3 linked regions of the Homo sapiens genome follow. The protein of the gene in region 1 interacts with the protein of each later gene in a pairwise test. Each region holds a gene or a part of one and is shown on either strand. Other genes may lie near its edges. The genes, in order: RRM2, CCNF and DNM1L.

Evidence for each region.
Region 2: the proteins of RRM2 (region 1) and CCNF interact in binary tests that used the Homo sapiens proteins (3 or more experiments, as listed by UniProt).
Region 3: the proteins of RRM2 (region 1) and DNM1L interact in a two-hybrid assay, tested with the Homo sapiens proteins (one study listed by BioGRID and IntAct).

The regions. Positions count from the first base shown.
Region 1 is NC_000002.12:10,123,645-10,133,453, forward strand, and holds the end of RRM2 (ribonucleoside-diphosphate reductase subunit M2), read left to right. Parts: intron 1-91; coding exon 92-208; intron 209-1,072; coding exon 1,073-1,206; intron 1,207-3,230; coding exon 3,231-3,325; intron 3,326-3,442; coding exon 3,443-3,576; intron 3,577-5,203; coding exon 5,204-5,308; intron 5,309-5,396; coding exon 5,397-5,510; intron 5,511-5,589; coding exon 5,590-5,742; 3' UTR 5,743-7,770; downstream 7,771-9,809. UniProt on the Homo sapiens protein: Provides the precursors necessary for DNA synthesis. Catalyzes the biosynthesis of deoxyribonucleotides from the corresponding ribonucleotides. Inhibits Wnt signaling.
Region 2 is NC_000016.10:2,437,630-2,448,262, forward strand, and holds part of CCNF (cyclin-F), read left to right. Parts: intron 1-440; coding exon 441-494; intron 495-1,723; coding exon 1,724-1,828; intron 1,829-2,119; coding exon 2,120-2,197; intron 2,198-6,019; coding exon 6,020-6,171; intron 6,172-7,762; exon of another isoform or gene 7,763-7,828; coding exon 7,829-7,993; intron 7,994-10,633. UniProt on the Homo sapiens protein: Substrate recognition component of a SCF (SKP1-CUL1-F-box protein) E3 ubiquitin-protein ligase complex which mediates the ubiquitination and subsequent proteasomal degradation of target proteins.
Region 3 is NC_000012.12:32,729,770-32,740,402, forward strand, and holds part of DNM1L (dynamin-1-like protein), read left to right. Parts: intron 1-1,244; coding exon 1,245-1,365; intron 1,366-1,586; coding exon 1,587-1,742; intron 1,743-2,084; coding exon 2,085-2,174; intron 2,175-3,945; coding exon 3,946-4,038; intron 4,039-7,335; coding exon 7,336-7,392; intron 7,393-8,095; coding exon 8,096-8,173; intron 8,174-8,494; coding exon 8,495-8,527; intron 8,528-10,294; coding exon 10,295-10,471; intron 10,472-10,633. UniProt on the Homo sapiens protein: Functions in mitochondrial and peroxisomal division.

The sequences.
Region 1 (9,809 bases):
GCCAGCATACTTAAAGTTTGAGTGCTCAGTGTGAGTCCTGTAGGCTTTACTCTCTTCCTTTTATGCTAAAATTGTGACTTCCGAACCTCAGGTGGACCTCTCCAAGGACATTCAGCACTGGGAATCCCTGAAACCCGAGGAGAGATATTTTATATCCCATGTTCTGGCTTTCTTTGCAGCAAGCGATGGCATAGTAAATGAAAACTTGGTGAGTTTCCAAAACATCTTTCATTCATTTGACGTTGACGATCTGAGGTCGAACTAGTTCGCTTTCCTCGTCTTGTATGTTTTTCCATGCTGAGTGCATCTGTGTGTGTAAGCTGGGTTTTATATTACATGGCATTTCCTGTTTTGTAACACTTTGCAGTTCTTTCTTATGGTATTTTCCCGACTCTAGAGAAGCTGAGACAATATTAAGTGGTAGCAATGTGATGACTCTTTGTGGCCACCACATCTGCCCCCTCTTTTTTTTTTTTTTTTTGAGACAGAGTCTCACTCTGGCCCAGGCTGGAGTGCAGTGGTGTGATCTTGGCTCACTGCAACCTCCGCCTCCTGGGTTCAAGCGATTCCCCAACCTCAGCCTCATGAGTACCTGGGATTACAGACGTGCGCCACCATGCCTAGCTAATATCTGTATTTTTAGTAGAGACAGGGTTTTACCATGTTGGCCAGGCTGGTCTCGAACTGCTGACCTCAGGTGATCCACCCACCTTGGCCTCCCAAAGTGTTGGGATTACAGGCGTGAGCCACCACGCCCGGCTCTGCTCCCTCCTTTTTGTGGCTTTGCTGTTTTAATAATAATTTGGTTGTATCTCTTATTGCGAATGGATCTTTCTTGACATAAATTAATTAGGAAATCGAGCGCTCACAAATCCTATTTTATATGTATCTATTTCCTGATATGTAAGTTGAGCATATGACATAAAATATCAAAGAATTGTGACAAATTGGATGAAATATATATAGAAATAAACCTTATAATGGTACAAAGAGTGCGATGCTGCCAGTATCCGTTGACAGTTGCTGCTGTTGGTTTTTTCTCAAGCTTAACTTTGATGTGTTTTGCCACTAGGTGGAGCGATTTAGCCAAGAAGTTCAGATTACAGAAGCCCGCTGTTTCTATGGCTTCCAAATTGCCATGGAAAACATACATTCTGAAATGTATAGTCTTCTTATTGACACTTACATAAAAGATCCCAAAGAAAGGTGAGTATTCAAGTGGTATGCCAAGATTTTTAGGACTCACTAATTGTTGATTTATTACACATTTTTAGTTCACCTAGGGATAAAAATGACTCCAGAATGACTAAGACAGTCATAGGCATTCCCAGCACCCGTGGTCATGTCTGCTCTTAGCAAGGGGCCTAAATGCACTTTATTATTCACTTAGAGTTGTGAAGGTACTCCTTTTAAAGTTGGATGTCTACCAATGTAAAACCTTCTTTTGAAAAAATTCCTAGATGTTGGGTAAGACAAACTAAAACCTATGTCTGACCATCTTTGCTCATTTGGTAAAGTTGTTGAGAAGCTAGAATGTGGGGCTGCAGTGGGATGGACGGGGAGGACTTGCCTCCTAAGAAGCCTGCAGTATAGTATAGGCAAATAAGACTTAGTAGGAGTTACATAAGGCAGAGGCAGCAGTGAACCCTGAGACTGATTTAGGCATGCAGGAGTTTGGCTGAATAAAGGTAGCTTAAGGTCTGTTTTGTTTTGGAGATTGGAGGTGGGGGGATTAGAAATGGGCTGCTGGAGTAGTCTAGATACAAAGGTCAGCTTTAGGGTGGCGCGCGGTGGTTCTCGCCTGTAATCCCAGCACTTTGGGAGGCTGAAGCGGGCGGACAATGAGGTCAGGAGATCGAGACCATCCTGGCTAACACGGTGAAACCCCGTCTCTACTAAAAATAAAAAAAGTGGTGGCGGGCGCCTGTAGTCCCAGCTGCTTGGGAGGCTGAGACAGGAGAATGGCGTGAACCCGGGAGGCGGAGCTTGCGCTCCAGCCTGGGTGACAGAGCAAGACTCCGTCTCAAAAAGCAAAACCAAGCAAAAAAAACAAAGGTCAGCTTTGGGGACCAGAACCTTGTATGGAGTGGAAGTGGTGAAGCTGCAACCTAAAGTAGCCGTTGTAGACTTTGAAGTACATGAAGAGGAAAAGTGGTAACTTGAAAGGACTGAGGAAACATTGGGAGTAAAGAGATTTGAACATGTTTATAGGTGGAAATTGAGAAAAGAAGGCAAAGATTAGGGGTACGATCGGGGGCAAATGCCCAGAAGGGGAACAGGAAGGTCTGCTGGGGAAGCCTCAAAAACAAGGGAGAGGCAGACCCAGGTCTCAGAGAGAGGGACAGTGAGATGGAAAGAATGAACGACAGCTGGGCATGGTAGTCTGAGCTAGTAGTCCCAGCTACTTGGCAGGCTGAGGCAGAAGGATGGCTTGAGCCCTGGAGTTTGGTTTTACCGTGAGCTGTGATCATCTCGCTGCACTCTAGCCTGGGCAACAGAGTGAGACCCTCATCTCTTTAAAAAAAAAAAAAAAAAAAAAAAAAAAAAAGCTGCCCAATGTCTGGTGCCCTTGGCTTCAGAACACAAAGTCATCTGGGTAGGAACAGTCTGGGAAATGAGTAGCCTCTCAAGGTGGGCACCAGAATAAAGGGAGGCAGAGGAGGGTGGTAAGGGAGATCCAGTTAACTGTAGTACCCATGGATTTGCTTTCCTGACCTGGGATCGACAGTGTAGCACAGAGTCCTAGTAGGAAGCAATCTTAGTTTATTGGTTTAATTATTTTATGATATAGGTGTGGCAACTGAGGCCAAATAATGCACCTAATCATAGTCTGATAATAGCACAGCAGTTAGGATTTTATGGTTCTTCAAATTTAAATTCTATGATTCTTCAAATTGAACAATGATCTGGACTTGAAATAATTTTAAAGGCAACAAATGTCCCTGCTGTACTGGACTATGTTTTACTGTCTGTAGACCCTGAAGCTCAATATGAACTACAGAATACCCAAACTTGTATTAATGTAAATCAAGTGTTGAGGTTTTTAAAAGAACACTGGAGGGAAAAACTGACCAGTAAAAATAAAACATTTCGGTGTGAGTTCTTCCTTTAGGAAGAGGATTGGCAAATACTTGAATTTGGCCTTTGTCCCAGAGCTCTTATCTAGCAGTTGGTAATCGGAGGTCTTTTACTGTAATGCTTCAATTGCTGATACCGTATGTGCCTACTAGGGAATTTCTCTTCAATGCCATTGAAACGATGCCTTGTGTCAAGAAGAAGGCAGACTGGGCCTTGCGCTGGATTGGGGACAAAGAGGCTACCTATGGTAAGGAGACCCTTGCCCCTACTTAAACCTGAGCTTCATTTTCCAAGTAATGTTACTGGATTTTTGGCCCTTGAATACCAACTCACTAGAATCATGTTGGTGTTAACTCCTAAATAGGTGAACGTGTTGTAGCCTTTGCTGCAGTGGAAGGCATTTTCTTTTCCGGTTCTTTTGCGTCGATATTCTGGCTCAAGAAACGAGGACTGATGCCTGGCCTCACATTTTCTAATGAACTTATTAGCAGAGATGAGGTGAGTCTAAGTCAAATAATAGGGTGACCTAAACCCCAAACACAACTCGGGCATGCTCTTGTGTTCACTGACGGGGACCTGAGATGCTAGATGGCATATATCCACATTTAATGTGTGAGTTCAACCATACACATACTTGACAAAAGAAGGAAATACTTTCATTTACTGAAACTGTTTTACTTGCATTCTCAATATATTGTAATACATTTGTACATATGTATTCCCCTATAGGCTTTGAATGCATAAAACTACAAGTTCTTTGTTTTTTGAGGTGACGGAATCTTGCTCTGTCGTTCCAGGCTGGAGTGCAATGGCGTGATCTTGGCTCACTGCAACCTCTGCCTCCTAGGTTCAAGTGATTCTCCCGCCTCAGCCTCCCAAGTAGCTGGGATTGTAGGTGCCTGCCACCATGCCCAGCTAATTTTCGTCTTTTTATACAGACGGGGTTTCACCATGTTTGCCAGACTGGGGTTGAACTCCTGACCTCAGGTGATCAGGTGATCCACCCGCCTCGGCCTCCCAGAGTGCTGGGATTATAGGCATGAGCCACCATGCCCAGCCAAAACTACAAGTTATTGATGGGATTGGGATTTTAAGGGATGTTTTATTATTTTTGCCTGGTATTAATATGTTATCCCTTTTTCCGTAAAAATGTTCATAGTAGAGCCAGGAGCGGTGGCTCATGCCTGTAATCCCAGCACTTTGGTAGGCCGAGGCGGGTGGATCATGAGGTCAGGAGATTGAGACCATCCTGGCTAACACGGTGAAACCCCATCTCTACTAAAAATACAAAAAATTAGCCGGGTATGGTGGACGTGCCTATTGTCCCAGCTACTTGAGAGGCTGAGGTAGGAGAATCGCCTGAACCTGGGAGGTGGAGGTTGCAGTGAGTCAAGATCACACCACTGCACTCCAGCCTGGGTGACAGTCCCCCCGAAAAAGAATGTTCATAGTAGCCATTATGTTTCTCCTGTTTGATCTAGAAATTGCCCCTCTACTTCAATATTAATAAGCATTTCAATGAAATGAGTATACATTTTGGTCTAGTGTATGTCTTTGATTAAGTCACATTTGAAAAGCCAGGAGCATGAACTCCATCTTACTTGGAGCCCAGTGGGCAAATCAAATATGGTTACCTTGTAGGAGGGCCTTCCTTACTGGATTGGGAGATAAGCTGTGAAGCTTGATGTTTAATGCAGTAACTTGCAAACTTGATTTACTTGAAATTGCATACAAATTTCCTGAGCATCTAAAAACTAGCCTTATTACTGAGCTTTGCCTTTCCTGCTGGGAGTAGTGGCAAAATTAGCACTCATGGCTGTAGAAAGATCACTGAGTGAAGCTCTGACTCCTCCTTTGCCAACACACAGCAGAGCAAGAAATACACCTTGCCTGTCTTCATCTAGGTGGCAACTTTGAGGGTCTTGAATGGGACTGAGCTTGCCTTGGTAGTGACATCAGCAGAGAAGTCAGTAGTTGAAGTCATCTTCCCTTTGAGAGTTCAAGTGCTCTCAGTATGGCTGAGCATGTTGGATAAGGAGAATGCAGAAAAGGACAAAGTAATTTCATATTCCATGTTAATGACAGAAGTCTTCTGGCTTTAGTGATCTTGAACTTTTTTTTCTAGGGTTTACACTGTGATTTTGCTTGCCTGATGTTCAAACACCTGGTACACAAACCATCGGAGGAGAGAGTAAGAGAAATAATTATCAATGCTGTTCGGATAGAACAGGTAAAGTGGGTGATGAAATGGGTCACTCAAGCTTGCTAGAAAATGCCTGTGCTTTAGTTGTATTCAGAAGCTGTATTTTGGTTCCTAGGAGTTCCTCACTGAGGCCTTGCCTGTGAAGCTCATTGGGATGAATTGCACTCTAATGAAGCAATACATTGAGTTTGTGGCAGACAGACTTATGCTGGAACTGGGTTTTAGCAAGGTAAAGTATTGTTTACATAGCCTTTTGCTTGTTTTGAAGCTGGTGCTCTGTATTTATATCTTGATGTGAACCTTTTCAGGTTTTCAGAGTAGAGAACCCATTTGACTTTATGGAGAATATTTCACTGGAAGGAAAGACTAACTTCTTTGAGAAGAGAGTAGGCGAGTATCAGAGGATGGGAGTGATGTCAAGTCCAACAGAGAATTCTTTTACCTTGGATGCTGACTTCTAAATGAACTGAAGATGTGCCCTTACTTGGCTGATTTTTTTTTTCCATCTCATAAGAAAAATCAGCTGAAGTGTTACCAACTAGCCACACCATGAATTGTCCGTAATGTTCATTAACAGCATCTTTAAAACTGTGTAGCTACCTCACAACCAGTCCTGTCTGTTTATAGTGCTGGTAGTATCACCTTTTGCCAGAAGGCCTGGCTGGCTGTGACTTACCATAGCAGTGACAATGGCAGTCTTGGCTTTAAAGTGAGGGGTGACCCTTTAGTGAGCTTAGCACAGCGGGATTAAACAGTCCTTTAACCAGCACAGCCAGTTAAAAGATGCAGCCTCACTGCTTCAACGCAGATTTTAATGTTTACTTAAATATAAACCTGGCACTTTACAAACAAATAAACATTGTTTGTACTCACAAGGCGATAATAGCTTGATTTATTTGGTTTCTACACCAAATACATTCTCCTGACCACTAATGGGAGCCAATTCACAATTCACTAAGTGACTAAAGTAAGTTAAACTTGTGTAGACTAAGCATGTAATTTTTAAGTTTTATTTTAATGAATTAAAATATTTGTTAACCAACTTTAAAGTCAGTCCTGTGTATACCTAGATATTAGTCAGTTGGTGCCAGATAGAAGACAGGTTGTGTTTTTATCCTGTGGCTTGTGTAGTGTCCTGGGATTCTCTGCCCCCTCTGAGTAGAGTGTTGTGGGATAAAGGAATCTCTCAGGGCAAGGAGCTTCTTAAGTTAAATCACTAGAAATTTAGGGGTGATCTGGGCCTTCATATGTGTGAGAAGCCGTTTCATTTTATTTCTCACTGTATTTTCCTCAACGTCTGGTTGATGAGAAAAAATTCTTGAAGAGTTTTCATATGTGGGAGCTAAGGTAGTATTGTAAAATTTCAAGTCATCCTTAAACAAAATGATCCACCTAAGATCTTGCCCCTGTTAAGTGGTGAAATCAACTAGAGGTGGTTCCTACAAGTTGTTCATTCTAGTTTTGTTTGGTGTAAGTAGGTTGTGTGAGTTAATTCATTTATATTTACTATGTCTGTTAAATCAGAAATTTTTTATTATCTATGTTCTTCTAGATTTTACCTGTAGTTCATACTTCAGTCACCCAGTGTCTTATTCTGGCATTGTCTAAATCTGAGCATTGTCTAGGGGGATCTTAAACTTTAGTAGGAAACCATGAGCTGTTAATACAGTTTCCATTCAAATATTAATTTCAGAATGAAACATAATTTTTTTTTTTTTTTTTGAGATGGAGTCTCGCTCTGTTGCCCAGGCTGGAGTGCAGTGGCGCGATTTTGGCTCACTGTAACCTCCATCTCCTGGGTTCAAGCAATTCTCCTGTCTCAGCCTCCCTAGTAGCTGGGACTGCAGGTATGTGCTACCACACCTGGCTAATTTTTGTATTTTTAGTAGAGATGGAGTTTCACCATATTGGTCAGGCTGGTCTTGAACTCCTGACCTCAGGTGATCCACCCACCTCGGCCTCCCAAAGTGCTGGGATTGCAGGCGTGATAAACAAATATTCTTAATAGGGCTACTTTGAATTAATCTGCCTTTATGTTTGGGAGAAGAAAGCTGAGACATTGCATGAAAGATGATGAGAGATAAATGTTGATCTTTTGGCCCCATTTGTTAATTGTATTCAGTATTTGAACGTCGTCCTGTTTATTGTTAGTTTTCTTCATCATTTATTGTATAGACAATTTTTAAATCTCTGTAATATGATACATTTTCCTATCTTTTAAGTTATTGTTACCTAAAGTTAATCCAGATTATATGGTCCTTATATGTGTACAACATTAAAATGAAAGGCTTTGTCTTGCATTGTGAGGTACAGGCGGAAGTTGGAATCAGGTTTTAGGATTCTGTCTCTCATTAGCTGAATAATGTGAGGATTAACTTCTGCCAGCTCAGACCATTTCCTAATCAGTTGAAAGGGAAACAAGTATTTCAGTCTCAAAATTGAATAATGCACAAGTCTTAAGTGATTAAAATAAAACTGTTCTTATGTCAGTTTCTTGATTGGTAAAATTTGCATTTTAATTCAGGAAGAGAAATATTTTTTGGCCAGGCATGGCTGTAATCCCAGCACTTTGGGAGACCAAGGTAGGCAGATCACCTGAGCTCAGGAGTTCGAGATCAGCCTGGCCAACATGGTGACACCCCATCTCTACTAAAAATACAAAAATTAGCCTGGCATGGTGGCACACGCCTGTAATCCCAGCTACTCGTGAGGCTGAGGCAGGAGAATCACTTGAACCCGGGAGGCAGAGGTTGCAGTGAGCTGAGATTGCACCGCTGCACTCCAGCCTGGGCAGCAGAGTGAGACTGTCTGAAAAAAAAAGGTGTTTTTTGTAAAGGCTAACGAATTCATTTGCTTTCCACTGGTTCTGGGCAAGAGACTTGCCTTGTGCCTATTGGCACAAGGTGTATAGGAGACAGGTACACCCGAAAGGTGGTGCCCAAAAATACTAACTGCCATACTGCACGTGGGGTTTGTGAAGCCGGGGCTGAGTTAACTTCTCAACCGTGGGGGAGCCACTCCTGGGGCTCTTTTCCCGTTTGCAAAACAGGTGGGGCTAGAGGTCTTCCCAGCTGGAGTTTTGCTCTGCTGTCCCACATCTGACCTGTGTGGACTCCAGCACAGGTTTGGATTGGTCCCTGTGTCTATAAAGGCCCTTTCCTGACTCGGAATCCCACCCACTTTGATAAAGCCTTTTAGAATTCATGACACCCATCCCCAAACGAACCAATCATTCCTTGTACCTCACGCCACTGCCATTCAGTTCATTGAACAAACAGCAGCTCTCTTGTCAGGTGACGTTTTCTACCTGCATTTTAATTCAGGAAGATGGGGCGCTAAGCCAGAGGGGAGGCCCCTCCCTCTGGAGCTTGGGTTTACTCCTAGAGAGGAAAACTGATAGATGAGTAGATCTGAATTGTTGGGCAGTGGTGGGGGCAGCAGAGAATTCTAAGGTGGATGGGAGTGATTGGGAGAGGTCTCATGGGGGGAGATGATGTTTCCTTAGTGGAGGGGACTGGGACTAGTGTCTGAGGTTGTGCTGCTTCCGACTCCTGTGTTCTCATGAAGATTTCTTCCCGTGCTGCTCTGTAAGAGAAAGTTGTCTTTGAGGGCACAGATTTTTATCTGTCTTTATATTTATAAGCATAAGGCCTCCAAGGATCAGGTATTTAAGTGACTGGTACATGGGGAAATAAACTAATTGGAACTGAAGTATTTTGGGGTGGATGGTATCTTGGGTAAAAGTGTGATCTGTGTCCCAGAGGAACCTAGTAGAGAGCTTTGCCTTTACACCTAAAAGTGTTCAGTTAAGGTCATTTGATTTGTAATGTCAGGTTGGCGCTGGGCCTATTGCACAAGTTCGGGGCAGCCAGGCGTCAAGAAGATGACCAACTACTAGGACAGCCTCCCTGTGGGTGGCCTGCAGTCTGTTCTGCTCCCCCCGGCCCCATGCCAGCTGCCATGCTCTATAGAACATGTCTCCCATGCTGCCCGAGGAGGGCCTGCAGAGAGTTGAGTGGTCAGGCTGCTGAGTCAATTGCCCTGGGTACTCATTAGATACATCCTCCCCGGCCTCACCCCCAGACCTACTGAATCAGTCTGGGGGTAAACCAGGGACCCTGTAATCTTAATGGGAGATCTCAGACACTTGAGATCGGGTGGGATAGACTCCTGACATAAAGTTCAAACCAGTGGACGTCAGTCCTGGGTGTGAATTATAATCACCTGGGGGCTTTTAAAAGCTACTAAAGTCTGGATCTCACTTGGGGAAAAGGCAGCCCTGCTGAGCTTCAGCATGTTCCAGATGTGTTTTCTGGTGTGTTCTAGACATGCTGTGTAAGAGTTACACTTCATTGTGTGTGCACATTCGGGGCCCTGCCCAGCTGCAGTGGCCAGGCCTGGCTGCTAAAAGCAGACCTACCAAAACCTCCCTTCACCTGGTACTGCTGTGGCCTCTGACCTGAGGACTTTGTCATGCAAAGGAGGAACCAGATGGGTGTTCTGTCACCTGGCCAGGGAGCTAACTGGC
Region 2 (10,633 bases), on another chromosome or scaffold:
TGTCATCCTAGCACTTTGGGAGGCCGAGGCTGGAGAATTGCTTGTGGCCAGGTGTTCGAGACCAGTCTGGGCAACATGATGAAATCTCGAAACCTCGTCTCTACAAAAAATACAAAAAAGTTAGCCAGGGGTGGTGGTGCATACCTATAGTCCCAGCTACTCAGGAGGCTGCGGTGGGAGGATCGCTTGAGCCTGGGAGGTTGAGCTTGCAATGAGCCGTGACTATGCCAATGCACTCCAGCCTGGGTGACAGAGCAAGACCCTGTTTCCCTTTAAAAAAAAAAAAAAAAAAAGACTGAAATCTGGGAGTGGCCCTCTGCAGGGGAGGGAGGGCCAGACAGCAGGGCCATGGGCATGGGACCCAAAGACAGACAAGGGAGTGGTGGCCCCCGGGCAGTTCTCTGTGCTGGAAATCACACTTCTTTCTCCTTTTTTTAAAGACTCACAAAGCATCCATATTGCACTGCTTGGGCAGAGTGCTGAGTCTGTTCGAGGTGAGTCAAGTTGTTCTCTGCACTGGGACTTTGTGTTCGATACATCCCTAGCCGAGATCCTGGAACTGAAAAGCAGCAGAAGGGGGTGTCCAAGGCCCAAAACAAAAGGCAAGCCTTGCCCAGAAAGGCCTAGCTGGAGAAGCCAGGGGACACATGTGGGCCTGGCCACGGGCTCCGATCCTGGCTCCATGACCCGCCTGGCAGGGGAGTGGGGGACGGTGAGAACAGCAGAGCAGATCTCAAGGAGGCATCGAACCTCGATGCTCACTCGTCTGCTGGCCCTGCTCCTCGTGGGCCTCTCCTGCTCGTGTGGACCTCTCTGCCTGGCCAAAATGGTGAAACCACGTCTTTACTAAAAAACACAAAAATTAGCTGGGCGTGGTGGCGGGTGCCCATAATCCCAGCTACTCAGGAGGCTGAGGCAGGGAGAATTGCTTGAACCTGGGAAGCGGAGGTTGCAGTGAGCCGAGATTGCACCACTGCACTCCAGCCTGGCAACAGAGTGAGACTCAGTCTCAGAAAAAAAAAAAAAAAGTATGGAAAAGGAGGAAGATGGTGAGTAGAGTGATTGAACATCAAGTAAAGAATAAGGGCCGGTCATGGTGGCTCATTCCTGTAATCCCAGCACCTTGGGAGGCCGAGGCGGGTGGATCACCTGAGGTCAGGAGTTTGAGACCAACCTGGCCAATGTGTTGAAACCACGTCTTTACTAAAAAACACAAAAATTAGCCGGGCATGGTGGTGGGCACCTGTAATCCTAGCTACTTGGGAGGCTGAGGCATGAGAGTTGCTTGAACCCGGGAAGCTGAGGTTTTAGTTAGCCAAGATCGTGCCACTATACTTTGGCCTGGGTGACAGAGGGAGACTCTGCCTCAACAACAACAAAAAAACCAGCCAGGCACAGTGGCTCATGCCTGTAATCCCAGCACTTTGGGAGACTGAGGTGGGTGGATCACCTGAGGCCAGGATTTTGAGACCAGCCTGGCCAACATGGTGAAACCCCGTCTCTACTAAAAATACAAAAATTAGCCGGGCATGATGGTGGGCTCCTGTAATCCCAGCTACTCAGGAGGCTGAGGCAGGAGAATTGGTTGAACCCAGGAGGCGGAGGTTGCAGTGAGCCAGGATGGCGCCATTGCACTCCAACCTGGGCGACGAGTGAAACTGTCTCAAAAAATAAAAATGAAAAAGAATAAGGGAACAATGAACTCTGCTGGGATTTATTCTAGGATGAGGAGAAGCAGCAGCAGGCCCATGACCTGTTTGAGGAGGCTGCTCATCAGGGATGTCTGACCAGCTCCTACCTCCTCTGGGAAAGCGACAGGAGGACAGATGTGAGTGGTGCCTGCTCTGGGTCGGGGGGAGTTATGCTGGACAAAGGCGTAGTTGATGCTGGTCCTTGGATGCGTTTCTGTCCACAAAAGGGAGGTGGCTCTTGCTGCTCCCGGTCTCTCAGCCTCCGGGAACCACTGGTCAGTCGGCTATTCTTGGTACCCCCAAAAATGACTCCACCATTTGAGAGAGAAGAGGTGGGAAGTTAGCGTAGTGTCGGCCCTTCTGGGTCTTGGTTCTGAGTTCCTCCCAAGACACAGTTGTACAAAGGCTCGGTGATCTCCCATTGACAGGTGTCAGATCCTGGGCGATGCCTCCACAGCTTCCGAAAACTCAGGGACTACGCTGCCAAAGGCTGCTGGGAAGCGCAGGTGAGGTGCGGGGCTGGGATGACGTGGGGAGCTGGCCTTTCTCCCTCCAGCCTTGGGGCAGGACTATCTGGGCTCCCACATTGGGGGGCAGGACTATCTGGGCTCCCACATGGGAGGCCAGGATTGAGGGACACCCTAAGATCGGTTCAGCACTGGAACTGGTCCTAAAGGACAGGTACACTGTGAGAAGAGCTGGGAAATGCGTTATTCATCTCTGCCTATCCACTCTTGCCTCTCAGCCAGCCAACCTCTTAATTTTCAAATGCTTGTGAGCTATAGCTGCTGTCAAAATTTGTGCCATTCTTGAAAGTTGTCCCATAGGTAGAACTGATCTTGACAACAAAACTTGAGGCTACTTGAGAGCAGAGGGGCGTGGAGAGTCCCTTCCTGCTTCCTCTTCCTGTTAGCGCCTTGCTTGTCATGTCACCTGGTCACCAAGTCATCCAGGGCTACAGGCAGGAAATCAAGCATTGGTAGACTCTCCCCTCACAGCTATAAATAAGTTGTTAGGGCCAGGTGCGGTGGCTCACGCCTGAAATCCCAGCACTCTGGGAGGCCAAGGTGGGCGGATGACCTGAGGTCAGGAGTTCGAGACCAGCCTGGCCAACATGGTGAAACCATCGCTACTAAAAATACAAAAATTAGCTGGGCGTGGTGGCAGGCACCTGATACTCAGGAAGTTGAGGCAGGAGAATCGCTTGAACCCGGGAGGCAGAGGTTGCAGTACCACTACACTCCAGCCTGGGCGACAGAGCAAGACTCTGTCTGAAGGAAAAAAAAAGTTGTCAGGACGAATCAAAGAAAGCTCCTATTTGCCAAATGGATAGAAGCTTGTTCTTGTCACCCCACCAAGTGGGTGGCAGAGTGATCTGCGCTCAAATGCTAGGGACAAAATTACAAATTGATAATGGCCCAGCCCGAGGTGTCATAGCACATTGTGGTGTTCACGTCCAAAAAGCCAGTCTACAGATTTACAAGAAGGCCAGACGTGATGGCTCACGCCTGCAATCCCAGCGCTGTAGGAGGTTGAGTTGGGAGGATCGCTTGAGCCCAGGAGTTCAAGACCAGCTCTGGCAACATAGTGAGACTCCATCTCGACAAAAAATTTTAAAATTAGCTGGATGGGCTGGGTGCAAGTGGCTCATGCCTGTAATGCCAGCACTTTGGGAGGCTGAGGCGGGCGGATCACGAGGTCAAGAGGTCGAGACCACCCTGGCCAATGTGGTGAAACCCCGTCTTTACTAAAAATACAAAAAAATTAGCTGGGCCTGGTGGCATGTGCCTAGAGTCCCAGCTACGCGGGAGGCTGAGGCAGGAGAATTGCTTGAACCCAGGAGGAGGAAGTTGCAGTGAGCCGAGATTGTGCCACTGCACTCCAGCCTGGCAACAGAGCGATACTCCATCTCAAAAAAAAAAAAAATTAGCTGGATGTGGTGGCGTGTGCCTTGTAGTGCAGCTACTCAGGAGGCTGAGGCAGGAGGATCACTTGAGCCTGCGAGGTCAAAGCTGCAGAGAGCCGTGATCGCAACATTGCACTTCAGCCTGGGCTACAGAGGGAGACCCTATCTCAACAAAAACATTGTTTACAAGAAATGCAACAACGTAGTTCTCGTGGAAGTTCAAGGGGCCTCAGTCAATTCTCACAAAAGAGGAAATAGGGCCGGGCGCAGTGGCTCACATTTATAATCCCAACACTTTGGGAGGCTGAGGCGGGAGGATCACTTGAAGCCAGGAGTTCTCTCTGTTGCCCAGGCTAGAGCACAGTGGTGCGATCTCAGCTCACTGCAACCTCTGACGCCTGGGTTCAAGCCTTCTGAGTAGCTGGGACTATAGGTGCCTGCCACCACGCCCAGCTAATTTTTGTATTTTTAGTAGAGGTGGGGTTTCACCATGTTGGCCAGGCTGGTCTAAAACTCCTGACCTCAAGTAATCTGCCCTCCTCGGCCTCCCAAAGTGTTGGGATTACAGGAGTGAGCCACTGCACCTGGCCAAAAAAAATTAATAATAAATAAATAAACTCAAGTGGTTAGAAATTGGAATGTTCAACCTTACTACTAGTCATAAGAGTGCACTTTTAAATGAGATATTTTGGGCTCATGATATTAGCAAATTATATATATATATATATATATATATATATATATATATATATATATGTTTTTGTTTTTGTTTTGTTTTGTTTTGTTTTGTTTTGTTTTTGATGGAGTCTTGCTCTGTTGCCCAGGCTGGAGCGCAGTGGCACAATCTCGGCTCACCACAAGCTCCGCCTCCTGGGTTCATGCCATTCTCCTGCCTCAGCCTCCCAAGTAGCTGGGACTACAGGCATTGCACCACCACGCCCAGCTAAATTTTTTGTATTTTTAGTAGAGACAGGGTTTCACCATGTTAGCCAGGATGGTCTGGATCTCCTGACTTCGTGATCTGCCCGCCTCGGCCTCCTAAAGTGCTGGGATTACAGGCTTGAGCCACCGCACCCAGCCCTTAATTATATATATATAATATCCATAATTAGATATATTTATAATATCTATTATTATATTATAACATAATTATATTTAGTCTGCCAGCTATTTATAATATATAATATTATATAATATAATATTATTATATATAATATATAATATTATATAATATAATATTATTATATATAATATATAATATTATATAATATAATATTATTATATATAATATATAATATTATATAATATAATATTATTATATATAATATATAATATTATATAATATAATATTATTATATATAATATATAATATTATATAATATAATATTATATATAATATATAATATTATATAATATAATATTATTATATATAATATATAATATTATATATAATATCATATTATTATATAATAATTATATATAAATATGTATTTATATATTGTATAACATATAATTATATAATAATTATAATAATATAATATATATCATATATAATATTATATATTATATTCTATAATATATAATATATTCTATAATATATGTAATATTATATTCTATTATATATAATATATATTATATTATATATATTATATTATAATTATATATTATATATTATATAATATATAAATATATATTAATATATATGATTATTATATATTATTATATTATATATTTTTATATATTTATATATTATATATTATTTATGTTAATTATATATTATATAATTATATTATATGTTCTATAATATATAATATAATATTATGTTATAATATCTATAATATATATTATAGATATATTATATATAATAGATATTTTTATATATAATATATTACATATTATATATTATATGTTTTATATTGTATATAATATATATTATATATAATATATATATAATATATAATATATATATATTTCTCTGTTTTTGGGTGGCTAGCTGGTAACTTCTGAAAATAGCTGTTTTTAATAATCACAGTGTTTGCTGGGATGAAGCTGTGATGAGGCAGGTGCTCCTATTCCTGGGTGTAAACATTGGCAGAAGCCTTTCGGAGAGCACTGGGGCGTATGGCCAGAGACTTAACACAGCTTCCCCAGGCATTAGCCATGTAAGAAACTGAGACCTGAGCCACGGTGGAAAGGCCACTGACATTTCATTATATATCTTTTCTCATGTCATCTATTACTTATACAAAAAGGAATAATAATTAAAACCTGAGCCATCCTTGTTCCCGAAGCTTGTGAAGGTTTAAGTTAAGTAGGGCAGTGTGTCCACATGCATTTGGTGCCTGAATGGGCCTTTGCTTCAGAAATGGAAAACTGCAACATGGCTGCTGTCTCACGCTCATGTTTGTCTTTTCTTCCTCAGCTGTCTTTAGCCAAAGCCTGTGCAAATGCAAACCAGCTTGGACTGGAGGTGAGAGCTTCCAGTGAGATCGTCTGCCAGCTATTTCAGGCTTCCCAGGCTGTCAGTAAACAACAAGTCTTCTCCGTGCAGAAGGGACTCAATGACACAATGAGGTGAGGCATTCAGGCCGGGGCTTCTAATCAGAGCGGCGCGGAAGCCAGCCTCCAGGGGAAGGGAGCCCTTTCCACTTAACCCCAGTTACCTGTGACAGGGCGGCATAGAGTTCCCTTATCACCCTTTTTTTTTTTTTGAAGTGGAGTCTCGCTCTGTCGCCCAGGCTGGAGTGCAGTGGCGCGATCTCAGCTCACTGCAAGCTCCGCCTCCTGGGTTCGAGCAATTCTCCTGCCTCAGCCTCCCGAGTAGCTGGGACTACAGGCACCCACCACCATGCCCGGCTAATTTTTTGTATTTTTAGTAGAGATGGGGTTTCACCATGTTAGCCAGGATGGTCTCAATCTCCTGACCTCGTGATCCGCCCGCTTTGGCCTCCCAAAGTGCTGGGATTACAGGCGTGAGCCACCGCGCCCAGCCTTGGGTGTTTTTTAAAACCAGTAATGCCAAAGTTATCGTGGACTTTTTGGAAGAAAATATCCTACTCTGCTTTCTTCAGTTACTTTTTTTTTTTTTTTTGAGACGGAGTCTTGCTCTGTCACCCAGGCTGGAGTGCAGTGGCGTGATCTCGGCTCACTGCAAGCTCCACCTCCCGGGTTCACACCATTCTCCTGCCTCAGCCTCCTCAGGAGCTGGGACTACAGGTGCCTGCCACCACGCCCAGCTAATTTTTTTGTATTTTTAGTAGAGATGGGGTTTCATCGTATTAGCCAGGATGGTCTCAATCTCCTGACCTCGTGATCCGCCTGCCTCCGCCTCCCAAAGTGCTGGGATTACAGGCGTGAGCCACCACGCCCAGCCACCTTTTTTTTTTTTGAGACAGGGTCTGGCTCTGTCACCCAGGCCAGAGTGCAGTGGCATGATTTCAGCTCACTGCAGCCTCCGCCTCCCAAGCTCAAGAGATCCTCCCACCTTACCCTCCTGAGTAGCTGGGACTACAGATGCACACCACCATGCACAGCTAATTGTTGTATTTTTAGTAGAGACAGGGTATCACTATGTTGCCCAGGCTAGTCTTGAACTCCTGGGCTCAAGCGAACCTCCTGCCCCAGCCTCCCACAGTGCAGTGATCTTTTTTAAGCCACAGAACACATTGAACATCTTTTTTTTTTTTTTGAGGCAGGCTGTCTGTCACCCAGGGTGGAGTGCAGTGGTGTGTTCTCGGCTTGCTGTAACCTCTGCCTCGGGCTCAAGCCTTTCTCCTGCCTCAGTCCCCCAAGTAGGACTACAAGTGTCTCCACTCTATTCAGAAAGGCATTTACCATATTGGGGCATCATTTACCGTATTGGGGCATTCCCTTGCGACTGTCCACCTTCTCCCGCTCCCTGCACGCCCCGAGGGTCAGGGTTCATCCACTGTGGGCAGACCAACGGCTGTGGGCTGACTTTTCACTTTGCGTCAGGTCGAGGTCTCAAAGCGCTTGTGTTTGGGAGCACCAGGAACACAGTCGAAGGATGTGGGGCCTGCTTTGGGGCTGGGACCCACGGAGCCTCCCGGGCTTCCTGTGACATGGCCTCTCCAGCCTTGGTTCCAGGGTAAACCCATGATTCCAGAGCTAGCCAGCTTATTTGGTCGGGCCCAACAGGTGGGGTTGAAATCGCAGACAGGGACACATGGAGAACGCCCCCACCAGTTCCCACGTGCTTCTCTTTCCGCAGGTACATTCTGATCGACTGGCTGGTGGAAGTTGCCACCATGAAGGACTTCACAAGCCTGTGCCTGCACCTGACCGTGGAGTGTGTGGACCGGTACCTGCGGAGGAGGCTGGTGCCGCGGTACAGGCTCCAGCTGCTGGGCATCGCCTGCATGGTCATCTGCACCCGGTGAGAAGCCCCCTTGGCCCAGCTGGCAGGGACGTGCTGGCCTTTCCCGGGTTCAGGGTCACCTGCCCTTCATGTGCTCCTCACTGGTTTGGTTTTGTTTTGTGTTGTTTTTTTTTTTTTCCCGAGACCAAGTCTCGCTCTGTCACCCAGGCTGGAGTGCAGTGGTGCGATCTTGGCTCACCGCAACCTCTGCCTCCCAGGTTCAAGTGATTCTTCTGCCTCAGCCTCCAGAGTAGCTGGGACTGCAGGCGTGCGCCACCATGCCCGACTAATTTTTTTGTATTTTTAGTAGAGACGGGGTTTCATCATGTTGGTCAGGCTGGTCTCAAACTCTTGATTTCAAATGATCCGCCCGCCTCAACCTCCCAAAATGCTGGGATTACAGGCACAAGCCACTGCGCCTGGCCCTCACTGGTTCTTGACTCATGAGCCACGAGTGTCCCACCTGGTCAGACATGGAGTGCCACGCTGAGGGCCTTTTGCAGGCAGGGGTGGCAGAACAGCCTTCAGCGTGTGGGGGCCGCTGTGTGGGGTGCCTGCATCCAGGCAATTCATCCTGGCATGCAGTCTCAGGACCCAAAGTGTGGCCTCGCTCTGGCAGGCACAGGCTGGACTGCCCTGTCCCCTGGCTCCTGAGGGCAGCAGGATGACTGATCAGGGAGGGTGGCAGTTGGCTGCCCTTCTCTGAAGTTGGGTTCTAAAGTCTGTTGCCAGAGTTTCCTACACTCTTGGAGTTAGAGAGTTTTTCGTCCCCCACTGGTGCCCTGCAGAGCCCACTCCAGCCACGTGGGTGTCTCTCAGCAGCAGCGTGCGTCCTTACACGGCAGCCTGTCCTTTTCAAATCAGACCACTGCTTTCCTTTAACTAATGCTGGATCCCCTAGTTCCGCCTTTGGAAATAACGTGGAAATGATTCTCACAATACGATTTGCATTTCCTAAACCAGCTGTCCCCAGCATGGTCTACATTTCCCGAGGAAGTGCTTTCCAGACCGACTCCTCTGTAGAGCCTGGTGGGTGAGGATAGGCTTGGCTGCACACAGCATATGTGTAAGCTACAGAGACTTGTTTCTTTCTTGCACAGGTAACCCAGAGGCAGAGGTTCCAGGCTCAGGTCATTGGCATGTTTTTTGTTTCATGAGGAAGCAGAGGAGCCCCATCTCCCATCTTAATCTCTGCCACCAACTAGGGTGCTGCCCTTGTCCCTGTGACACCTGTACCTGCCACATTCACCTTTGCACTGAGCTTAGTCTTGTGACCACATCTCACCAGACGGGAACTGGGAGGTGTAGTCTCTTCGGGCCTGTGTGTGCCAGCTCGATGCAGTGTCATTCCCATGGAAGGAGGGAGCAAACCCTGCCACAAGCATCCAGAGCTGTCTTCAGATGCGCTCTTGGGCCTGAATCCAGCGTCCCAGGTCTTCCGACCAGAGACGACTGAGGAGGTCGGGCGGCCGCCTCCCTGGATCTGACTGCACATCCATCACTGCAACCTACGACAAAGCTCCTGGGCCACAACCGGCTGGCAGTGAGAGAATAACTGCTAAAAACGTTTCAGGGAGCTGAGTCCAATTTCTTCCCCAACCACAAGACCTGATTGCAGTGGTCCATATAACTATCACCACAGCTCCCTCAAATCAACTCTGCCTTATTATCTTTTTTTTTTTTTTTTTTAAATCCGGGGACCAGGCACGGTGGCTCACGCCTGTAATCCCAGCACTTTGGGAGGCTGATGTGGGCGGATCGTGAGGTCAGGAGTTCAAGACCAGCCTGGCCAACATGGTGAAACCCTGTCTCTACTAAAGATACAAAAAATTAGCTGGGCGTGGTGGTGCATGCCTGTAATCCCAGCTACTCAGGAGGCTGAGGCAGGAGAATTGCTTGAACCCGAGAGGCAGAGGTTGCAGTGAGCCAAGATTACACCATTGCACTGCAGCCTGGGCAATGGCGCAAGACTCTGTCTCAAAAAAATACAAACAAAATTAGCCAGACGTGGTAGTGGGCGCCTGTAGTCCCATCTACTTGGGAGGCTGAGGCATGAGAATCACTTGAACCTGGGAGGCGGAGGTTGCAGTGAGCTGAGATAGCGCCACTGCACTAATCCAGCCTGGGTGACAGAGGGAAACTCTGTCTCAAAAAAAAAAAGATTTTAAAGGCTGAGCTGCCCCCCACCTCTGCTCTCAGAGGTGCCCTGCCCCCACCAGCCATCTCACACCCCACGCTGGGCTCTCATTGGCCACTGACATCTTGTCTTTTTGGCGTCTGCAGCCCCCACGCTGGCAGGTGTAGTCCCTGCGCCTCTTGTCCTCTTGGTCAAGTGAATGACGCATGCAACCTGCAGAGTCCCCAGGACAGAGCAGCCAAGGGACTTGGCCTCAGTCCAAGGGGAAGGTGCCTTGCGGGGGGCCGCTGGAGCAGCGTGTTCCCTGATAGTTGGCGCTGGTTGACAACAGAGAACAGGGTGACCATCGCCTAGAGACAGTCAGGATTCCTGCGGCCACACAGTGCCGGGCACAGACTTTCCAACAACCCTTGGGCCCTTTGCCTCCAATTCCTAGATCTGGTGACTCACCCACCTTCTGGGTCTATAACATTTCTACCCCACTGATAGAGCTGTCACGTGACAGGCAAATCTCTGTCCTT
Region 3 (10,633 bases), on another chromosome or scaffold:
TCTGTCTCTGAATTTGCCTATTGTAGATATTTCATATAAATTGAATCATTCAGTATTTGTCCTTTTGTGCTTGGCTTACTTCTGTTAGCATAATATTAGACTAGTACTTTTTGCCTGAGCTAGTATAAAAAAGTACTCAATAGTGATTGTAAAAATAGAGAGGAAGGGATGATTTGGGGAGGCATTATAAAGGTATTTGTAGAATTCAGATGGACTTGAATTTAAAAAAAGATAATACCAGGGTTTCTAGTTATTAAACAAGATAGGAAACATAAGGTGCTCAGTAACTATATCAAGAGATTTAATTTGTCTAAGGCTGGGCGTGGTGGCTCATGCCTGTAATCTCAGCACTTTGGGAGGCCGAGGTGGGCAGATCACGAGGTCAAGAGATCAAGACCATCCTGGCCAACGTGGTGAAACCCCGTCTCTACTAAAAATACAAAAATTAGGTGGGCATGGTGGCACATGCCTGTAGTCCCAGCTACTTGGGAGGCTGAGGCAGGAGAATCGCTTGAACCCAGGAGGCGGAGGTTGCAGTAAGCCAAGAGCGCACCACTGCACTCCAGCCTGGGCGACACAGCGAGACTCCGTCTCAAAAAGAAACAAAACAACAAAAAAAGAGAGATTTAATTTGTCTAAAGCAAGAGTAGGGCTGGGCACGGGTGGCTCACGCCTGTGATCCCAGCACTTTGGGAGGTCAAGGCGGGCGGATCACTTGAGGTCAGGAGTTTGAGACAAGCCTGGCTAACAAGCTATACTTATTTATTTACATATTGTCTATGGCTGCTTATGTGCTTAATGGTAGAGTTGAGTAGTTGCAGCAGAGACTGTATGGCCTGAAAAGCCTAAAATACTATGTGACCCTTTATGGAAAAAGTTTGCCAACCTCTACTTCAGATTGTGAATCAATGGAAATAAATATAAGGCACTGTTTCCTGTCCTCAAGGAAAACTAGGGCAGAGAAAAGGTGCTTAGCAATTCTTAGTTAACTGTTGATTTATGTCAGAACATTTATTATATTTACATATATATAATTTAATGATTCCTTTTCCCCTTTAAAAAAATTAGAGAAACTAGTTCATAATGAGCTGAGTTAGAACACATGGTAATGGGAATGAATGAAATTGTTTATCTGAGGCTTTCTCAGAAAATAAGATGAGCTTAAAGCTTCTAGAAAGACTTCTAACTTGTATCTTCTTTCCCTTTTTGCAATGCCAGAAACCATATACTTCATTGCCTTTCAGATGCGGTGGTGCTAGAATTTGTTATATTTTCCATGAGACTTTTGGGCGAACCTTAGAATCTGTTGATCCACTTGGTGGCCTTAACACTATTGACATTTTGACTGCCATTAGAAATGCTACTGTGAGTATGTTTAGCTTTTTAGACTGTAAAAAAAAATGAGGTTAAAGTTTTTCTTACCCATATACTGTGTCTTTTTAAATTTAATTATACAGTTTATTTTGCTCTCATATTTGAAATTAAAAAGCATTTTTCATGAAAAGTACCAAAAATGTGACTTTCTTAACCCTTGGGAAGAACTGAAATTACATATATAATAAGAGTTCTAAGTTTTATTTTCTCAGGGTCCTCGTCCTGCTTTATTTGTGCCTGAGGTTTCATTTGAGTTACTGGTGAAGCGGCAAATCAAACGTCTAGAAGAGCCCAGCCTCCGCTGTGTGGAACTGGTTCATGAGGAAATGCAAAGGATCATTCAGCACTGTAGCAATTACAGTACACAGGTAACGGAGAGAAATGTAACAGGTTTCACATGAACTAGAAAAGGACATGAAGTGGTGGTTTCACTGGGTGGAAGGAAATGTATAAGATGGGATACAAGGTAAAATCTGTAGTTCCCTTACCTGAAAGTGATTTGAAATAGGATTCTTAAATGTAGTCTCCAAATTGAATTCAGTATTTCTGTGATCATTAAGTAAAAGAAAATGACTGTTAGCCTGGCATGGTGGCTTCTACATGTAGTCTCAGCTACTTGGGAGGCTAAGGTGGGAGGATGGCTTAGTGAGACTATGACTTAAAAAAAAAACAAAAAACAAACACGTTTTTCTTTCATCTACCATTTGTAGGAATTGTTACGATTTCCTAAACTTCATGATGCCATAGTTGAAGTGGTGACTTGTCTTCTTCGTAAAAGGTTGCCTGTTACAAATGAAATGGTGAGCTACTATAGCATAGATCATTGTAATTACTATTAGTAAAAGTTTAAATTTTTGCTTGGCTGCTTTTTAATAAGCATTATATGGTTACTTTAGAGTGTAGGCATAATGTTTTCCAGTGTATTGGGAGGAAAAACAAGTTGAGTTTCAGTCTCATTTTAAAGGAAAATTTTTAATAATTCTGGTATAAAGTGCATTTTTTCTTCATATTTTAATCATTGTTAGCCTGCAGGCATGGGTTTTCTTGAAAATAGATTTATGATTGAGGGGTGTGAATAGCTTTGCTGTATTATTTAGTACCACTGATCTTAAGAGAAAATTAGTTCCATCTTTAGCCTCAGTAAACTGAGCATTTATAGCACACTGTTACTTTGAGGTACATCGGAGTAATCTGGCCACTTCTGCAGTTTGCTTGTTATGACCTAATAACTATAATATCGTAGTTGCTTGCTACTATTCTGTGGGTTGCTGCTATCCACACAAATAAAAATGCTGAAATTGGCAGAAATATGGGATAAGCATTTAAAATTGCCCTCATGCCTCTAATTGTTGGCTGGGTTTTTTGTTTTTTGTTTTCTTTCTGATCACTAAAAGTGCATTTGGGTCCTTGGCTCAGGATGGTGAACCCCGTGGAGGTTTACTAAGAGTACAAAACCATCCTTGGAATGTAAGTGCTGCTGCTTGGTTGTTTCTTTAGCAAGGATAGCCCTCAGATTCTGATGTCTAAGACTGAATTTAGCCCAGAATCATTGGACCTTCATTTTAATAGACCCTTTTTACCCAGTTCTGGACTGATAAGTGCTGTTCTGATACCTGAGATTTGTTAGGACAGCACATAATAAAGGGCTCAAGTTTATTCTCTCTGTAAGACTCAGTGGTGTGGTGGCTCACACCTGTAATCCCAACACTTTGGGAAGTCGAGGCGGGTGGATCACTTGAGGTCGGAAGTTTGAGACCAGCCTGACCAACATGGAGAAACCCCCTCTCTACTAAAAATACAAAATTAGCCGGGCGTGGTGGTGCATGCCTGTAATCCCAGCTACTGGGGAGGCTGAGGCAGGCAGGAGAATCACTTGAACCTGGGAGGTGGAGGCTGCGGTGAGCCGAGATCGCGCCATTGCACTCCAGCCTGGGCAATGAGAGCGAAACTCCGTCTCAAACAAACAAACAAACAAAAAGACTTAGCAATTCTGTAGAGGGCTGGATAAATTAATTTTAACTTTTCTTTTTTATTTTCCTCTTAGGATTTTGAACTACATATAATATTTTAACTAGGTGCTTTATAGTTAAGGCTAATCAGTCACTACCTCAGGTCCTTAGATGTATCCTTTACCCAAATAAGTTAACATCTTTAACTTATGCCTTGTTACGAACTTATTTTCTTATTGTTGAAAATGAACTAAAAAAGTGACAGGGAATAGTGGATGATCTGAAGTTTTAATAGCAAAGTTGCATAAAGTGTTGGAATTTAGATTTGCATTAGGTAGATGACTATTTTTCCCTAAGAGTAAAATACTTGTAGTTACTTTAATGTTATTTTTCCCTCTTAGAAATGCAGTTTTAGATGCTGAAATGTAAATAATTTTAAAGCTAGAGTAAATTATTGTTTGGCATAAGATTTATCAGTTGGAATATAATTATCAAGTAATTTAGGCATAAGTTTCCTGTACTTTTTCGGTATTGTCTGTTTCATAAGTTTTATATATAAATTTCTCAAAGTAAAATATGGTTGATGTATTTTTGTATATCGCCTAACTTACTTTTTTTCTAGGTCCATAACTTAGTGGCAATTGAACTGGCTTATATCAACACAAAACATCCAGACTTTGCTGATGCTTGTGGGCTAATGAACAATAATATAGAGGTAAATATAATTCTTAAATGCTTTTTCACAGGTAGAAAAATCTGTTGTAACTCAGTTATATCAAACTTATTTAGCATGGAGTAACTATAAAATAGACATGTGCCACATTAGTGCCTGCTGCATGTCAGGAAATATGCTGAGGGGATTACATTGTTTTCTTAATTCTCAAAACCACCTGCAGGCATTATTACTTTCTGCTTATGAAATTGAAATTCAGAAAGAATCTGAAAATTCATTGATTTGGTGTGACTGGCTCTATTTTGGTAACTTATAGTTTATACAGGGGAAGTGTGTACAACAAAGTATTTAAAATTCTTTTCATTTGGCTTTGAAAGCTGTGAAGGAAACACTCAAGAATTAACCAACTTAGCATAAATTTGGAAAAGCAGAGTGCTTTTTTCACCACTACTGGGGTGGCTGCATTTCATGGATCTTTTCTTTCCTTTTGATTTTAATGTAACAAATTGAATAAGATCTCAGATGGAGCCAAGGCTGGTGGACAGAGCAATTTATCCAGAAGCCATTTTTTTTCTCTGCCGCTTTTCTCCAAAAATAGTACATTTTTCTGCTACTCCCTAATTCAGTAAGACCTGAGTCCCCTGCTATACCAAATTTCCTCTTCTGCATATCCATGGTGAGAAAATTGTAAACATGCAATTCAGAAGCTGGAAGGGATCCTGTGTTATTGACTTCAACTCTGGTTAAAACAGATGGGGTGGCCAGACGTGGTGGCTCATGCCTGTAATCCCAGCAATTTGGGAGGTCAAGGCAGGTGGATCACCTGACATCAGGAGTTTGAGACCAGCCTGGCCAACATGGTGAAACCCCGTCTCTACTAAAAATACAAAAAATTAGCCGGGCTTGGTGGCAGGTGCCTGTAATCTGAGCTACTAGGGAGGCTGAGGCAGGAGAATCAACTTGAACCCAGGAGGTGGAGGTTGCAGTGAGCTGAGATCGCGCCATTGCACTCCAGCCTGGGCAACAAGGGCGAAACTCCATCTTAAAAAAAAACTGGGGAGCTTGAGGCTTACAGATAGCAGTTATTCCTTTGGTGCTTATTTTGCAGGGCACTATTATAGGAAGCAAGCACCTTCTTAACACAGGTATAGGGAACTAATTTTTGGTTACATAGCTGGGGGTGATTCCTGTTATCAGAAAAAATTCCAAAATGCATACATGAGTAGGCACTTCAAAACACTCAGAAAGTAGGCCAGATCACAGTTATGTTAAAAATTAGCATGTAGACACTTAAAGGATTTAGTTTTTTTTACATTGAAACTAACATCATGAAAAACTTGTGTTTGCGGTAGTTCTGTTACACTGACAAGGTCATATGTGATATGATTTCAGATTAGTATTTTTCTACAAATGAATAGGTTTCTGGTTTTAATGACTGTGCCAGAGAACTTTATGTGGATATTTTCATTTAATCTTTACCATACCCTGAGGGCAGATCATGTCATTAACAGATTAGGACACTAGGGCTTCAAAATAGTTGGTAAGCTGTCCAGTTAGCAAAGCAGGTACTCCACATCTGCTGGGGTCCAGGAGCAGCTCAGATCATAACTGGTTAGTAACAGACTAGGGTGAGAATTCTAGATACCGTGGCCTTTTGCTTTGTATCCCTGTTCAAAATGTACATTTTATCATGCTAATTTTTTATTTTGAAGATTGTTAATATCTATACTTTTATTATCTGTTATTTTTTATTACTGAATACCCGCCCATGAAAAAATAAAATTGGGTCAAATTTCTGTCAAAAAAAATTATTACACATGAAACATCACTGTGGGCTGTGTGCGGTGGCTCATGCCTGTAATCCCAGCACTTTGGTAGGCCGAGGCAGGCTGATCACCTGAGGTCAGGAGTTCAAGTCTAGCCTGGCCAACGTGGCAAAACTGTCTCTACTAAAAATAGAAAAATTAGCCGGGGGTGGTGGATGCCTGTAATCCCAGCTAGTAGGGAGGCTGCAGCAGGGAGAATCCATTGAATCCAGGAGGCGGAGGTTGCAGTGAGCCAAGATCACACCACTGCACTCCAGCCTGGGCGACAGAGCGAGACTCCATTTCAACAAAAAACAAAAACAAAATCATTGTGAGGCTTTAACTTATATTTTTTTGCAAGTTGGACTGTGTTCATGAAATACTTCCTACTTAGGAGCAATTGTGACTTTAACCTAAATAGTTTCTACTTTATCTGATGCTGCCTGTGAGAGATCCATCATTAATTAACATCTACAGATTTCTATATCTTCATAATCTTTTTTTTTTTTTTTTTTTTTTAAGACAGAGTCTCACTCTGTCGCCCAGGCTGGAGTGCAGTGGCATGAGCTCTGCTCACTGCAACCTCTGCCTCCTGGGTTCAAGCAGTTCTCCTGCCGCAGCCTCCTGAGTAGCTGGGATTACAGGTGTGCGGCACCATGCCTGGCTAATTTTTATATTTTTAGTAGAGACAGGGTTTCACCATTTTGGCCAGGCTGGTCTTGAACTGCCCTCAAGTGATCTGCCCACCTTGGCCTCCCAAAGTGCTGGGATTACAAGCATGAGGCACTGTGCCCGGCCAATATTTTCATAATCTTTTACCTATCTTGGTGCTTGGATATAGCAGATGCTCGGGACATTCTAATTTGAATTTGTCAGTTTCTTTAGCTTTGTACAAGTTACTTTGATAATATTAGCAAATTAGAACAGTAGGCAATTGATCAGTGTGTTAAATTAGCCAGGTTACAGAAAGGACTAGCAGTTGTCAACACTATTTCCTGGAGGAAGAAATGGAACATTTTTATAGGATAACCTCAACCACAGATACTTCTTCAAGATACGGTTTTATGAGGGGAGTTGTTTGAGTTTAACACAAAGGTGTTCAGGTTAGAGTGACTTTTAAAGGCTTTGCGGAGTTTTCTGTGATCTCTGGACTTCAAATTCCACATGGTTATGTTGAAGGCTTACCACGTTCCACATTTATGTGAGGACAGTTTACATCACTGTTTCTTAGTGGGAAAGGGGGAGAAGATGGCAGTCTGTTGCCCCTCATTTGAGAATCCCCAGTACAGGGAGCCACTGTTACTGACAGTGTATTGTATCCTTCAGGTGTGTGGGCAGAAAAAAAAAAGATTAAGAAGCTTTGGGTTAAATGATTTCTTATTTATTTTAAAATATGATAATTATGGCATGAGTCCCAACAGTGAGAGGATGTATCTGTAAGTTACTCCACACTTTTCAATTAACATGAACATTTTTTAGTAGGCATATATCTCAATACTTGGATAATCACTTTTGTTTTGCTTGTGTTTCTTAGGAACAAAGGAGAAACAGGCTAGCCAGAGAATTACCTTCAGCTGTATCACGAGACAAGGTAAAAAAATGTTTTTAATGCATATTCCCAATACCTAAAGATAGATTGATGAGCTCAGAATATTACTCAGTCCTAGGAGTAATTTTTTCTTCTTTTCCTCCCTTTAACACTCCATTGGAACTAACTGAGTAAAGGCATACAAGTTTAAAATGGGTTTTGAGTGATTTAAAGATAATAGTATTTTGAATTCACTGACATAAATGCTTAAAAGTAGATTTAAGCATTTATTTAAGCATTTAAGCATCAAGCTTTTTAAAAAAATTCAGTCAGTGACTTTATCAACTTTGCACATAGCTGAAATGACTCAAGATTTTATTATAATAAGAGGGTTTCTTGGAAAAAACAGTATGCACAGAACAGAGGTTTTAATTACTAGTAATAATTAAAATAGTTGTAATACTAAAGTGTGTATAAAAATCTTTTACCTTGAATTCTTTGCCAGAAAAGAATCTTATTAAATACCAAAAATAAAAATGAAGCTTTTGGATTTGGATTTTTCTTATGTATTCATCTGAAGGAAACTTTTAACAAAGGTGACAATGGTGAAGGAAATAAGGCAGAATAAACAATCTCCCATGATTATTTTCATCTTTCATGTTATTTTACGATTTCATTACAGAAGGGAAAAATTCATTTATAGAATGTTCCTGAATGCATTTTTGCATCCTTGATTTTTTTTCCCCCCTGGATTTTTTGCCTTTAGTCTTCTAAAGTTCCAAGTGCTTTGGCACCTGCCTCCCAGGAGCCCTCCCCCGCTGCTTCTGCTGAGGCTGATGGCAAGGTCTGTTCTGATTCTTAATCTAAGCCTGCATGCCTTGTTCTCTGGTACAACATAATCTTCTGGAAACAATACACTGAATAGAAGAATATTAATATGGGATACTGTGCTAAGGTCAGATCACTTTAGTCTAATATATATTTTAAAATTATATAACAATGCAATGCATAGTTTATATTGTTGACATGCTTTTGCTTGCAATATAGAAGATGCACACAGAAAAAGTAATTTAAAGAGGAAATTATCCTGCACTTTTTGAATTTCAACCCATTGGTATTTAAATTTTGCTTGTTAAATTGCATGTTTTAACATATCTTTTAACAGTTAATTCAGGACAGCAGAAGAGAAACTAAAAATGTGAGTCTCTTGCTTCAGAATGGAAATGTTGGTACCTTTGGTTCTCACTGAAACACTGTCTATACCACCATTAAAGAACCTGTTTGTGTAGTGGTATCTATCTCTTGTCTGTGTTATGTTCTTAATGTTCCTTTTATCTAACCTGTGGAAGATGGCATTAAACGTTGTTTTAATTAGTAACAATAATAGGCTTTCTCACTGTTTTGTTACCTTCAAGAATAGTTTTAAATTTAGTATTTTGGTAGGAAATTCAGAGATTTCCTAGATTTCAGAGATGGAATTGTATTTTTGGACATTTCCTTTCCTCTTTAAAGATCTTGAGATCTGTTCAGTACTAATAGATCTAATGCTTCTTTCTTATGCTTCCAGTTAGTTTGCACTTGTTACCCTATATATAGCTTCACATATGCTTCAGAAGCTTAAGCAAATTAAAAAAACAAATGGGGACTGTGAGAGTTTGAGACTGTTTTCAATTCTTGATAACCATTTTAGAGGAAAATTAAATAATGTATAAATTATTCAGACTCATCGCTATTTCAAGATTTTCTGCCATTTAGCTCCTTTCCTTAATTATCCAGATTTAAAGTTCTGAACTTCAAATAAAGGTTTATAAATGTCTTATCTTCTCTCAGCCCACTGTGCTCAGATATTAATCAAACCATCTAAATCACTGCACAAGTTTTATTTCATTCATGACGTCACACTGAATGTGCTCTCTCTCCTTAAGATTTCATTTGGTATGTCATTCATGTATAGTTAACAAACATTTAAAAATCTAATTACTCATTTTTAAGTTAATGTGTAACATAAATATACTACTTATATTTAAATGTAGTTCACCTTAACTGACATACTAAAGACAGATTTTAGCAAATATTTTGATTCAGAATGATACCTCAAACTACCATTTTTCTAACTGCCATAATCCTCTATTAAACTTATATAATCCATTTTTAGATTGTAAGATCTTAAAGAATACCTAAAAAAAACCCTCTTAAATGTTGATGAATTGTTTTTCCATTATAAAGTCATTTTTGACTTTTAGAAGTCAAGACTAATACATTTTCTAGAAAACAAGGTACAAAAGCACTTGTGATTAATGGTAGCACTAGATTTCTTTCAGCAAATCCTTAAGAGTACAGAGGTTGAGGGGACTTCTGTTGTTTGTCACATTCCGCATTTGAAACAACTCACAGTGACTGTCAGCCTAAGAATAGCAAATGTAGTCTTGCTTTTTGTTAAAGAGTTCTTACTTATACCTTATGGCATTTTTGTTGACTATTAGAAATGTAAATTGAGAAACATATAAACTCTTAAGTTCAGAGACGTAAGTTCATGGAACTTTTAGAGTTTAACAGTGTTAATGATTACTTAAGAAATTAAACTGAATAGCAGTTCTTTGTGCTTTTAACGAGTAGTTTTGTTTTTAAGGGCAGCATATACTTTTCCTACAATTTAGTGTTTGAAGGGTGGGAGAAGAGGAACGATTTTGAAAAGTTAGCGAATGATAAAGAAAAAAGGAATTAAATAGAACATAAGTTGGTTGATGCCTTGCAAACAACTTAGAGCAGAACTTCTTTATTATTTAGATAGGTCAGGGTTCCAGTTATACATGCTACCTAGTGTCTCCTTCTGACCTCATTATCTGTCTGAATAAACTTCAGATGGGTACTGGATGTATATTGACTACTGTCAAATAAAATGAACTTTGTTTTAGTTAAGGTCAGATATGATGTGGTTGGTATGTTTTGGAACATGTTTTTTCAGGTTGCATCTGGAGGTGGTGGGGTTGGAGATGGTGTTCAAGAACCAACCACAGGCAACTGGAGAGGAATGCTGAAAACTTCAAAAGCTGAAGAGTTATTAGCAGAAGAAAAATCAAAACCCATTCCAATTATGCCAGCCAGTCCACAAAAAGGTCATGCCGTGAACCTGCTAGATGTGGTAAGCCATGACAATTTGGTTTAGGTAATAAGGTAGGTGACCAAGTTAGTAGGAAAACGATTAGACAGAAAGAACTAAAAGTCTCAAAAACTTACATAACTTTCAGATGTTAAAGCTGCCATTTTAGTGTCACAAAAGTAATATTTTTTCCCCCTCATCCCT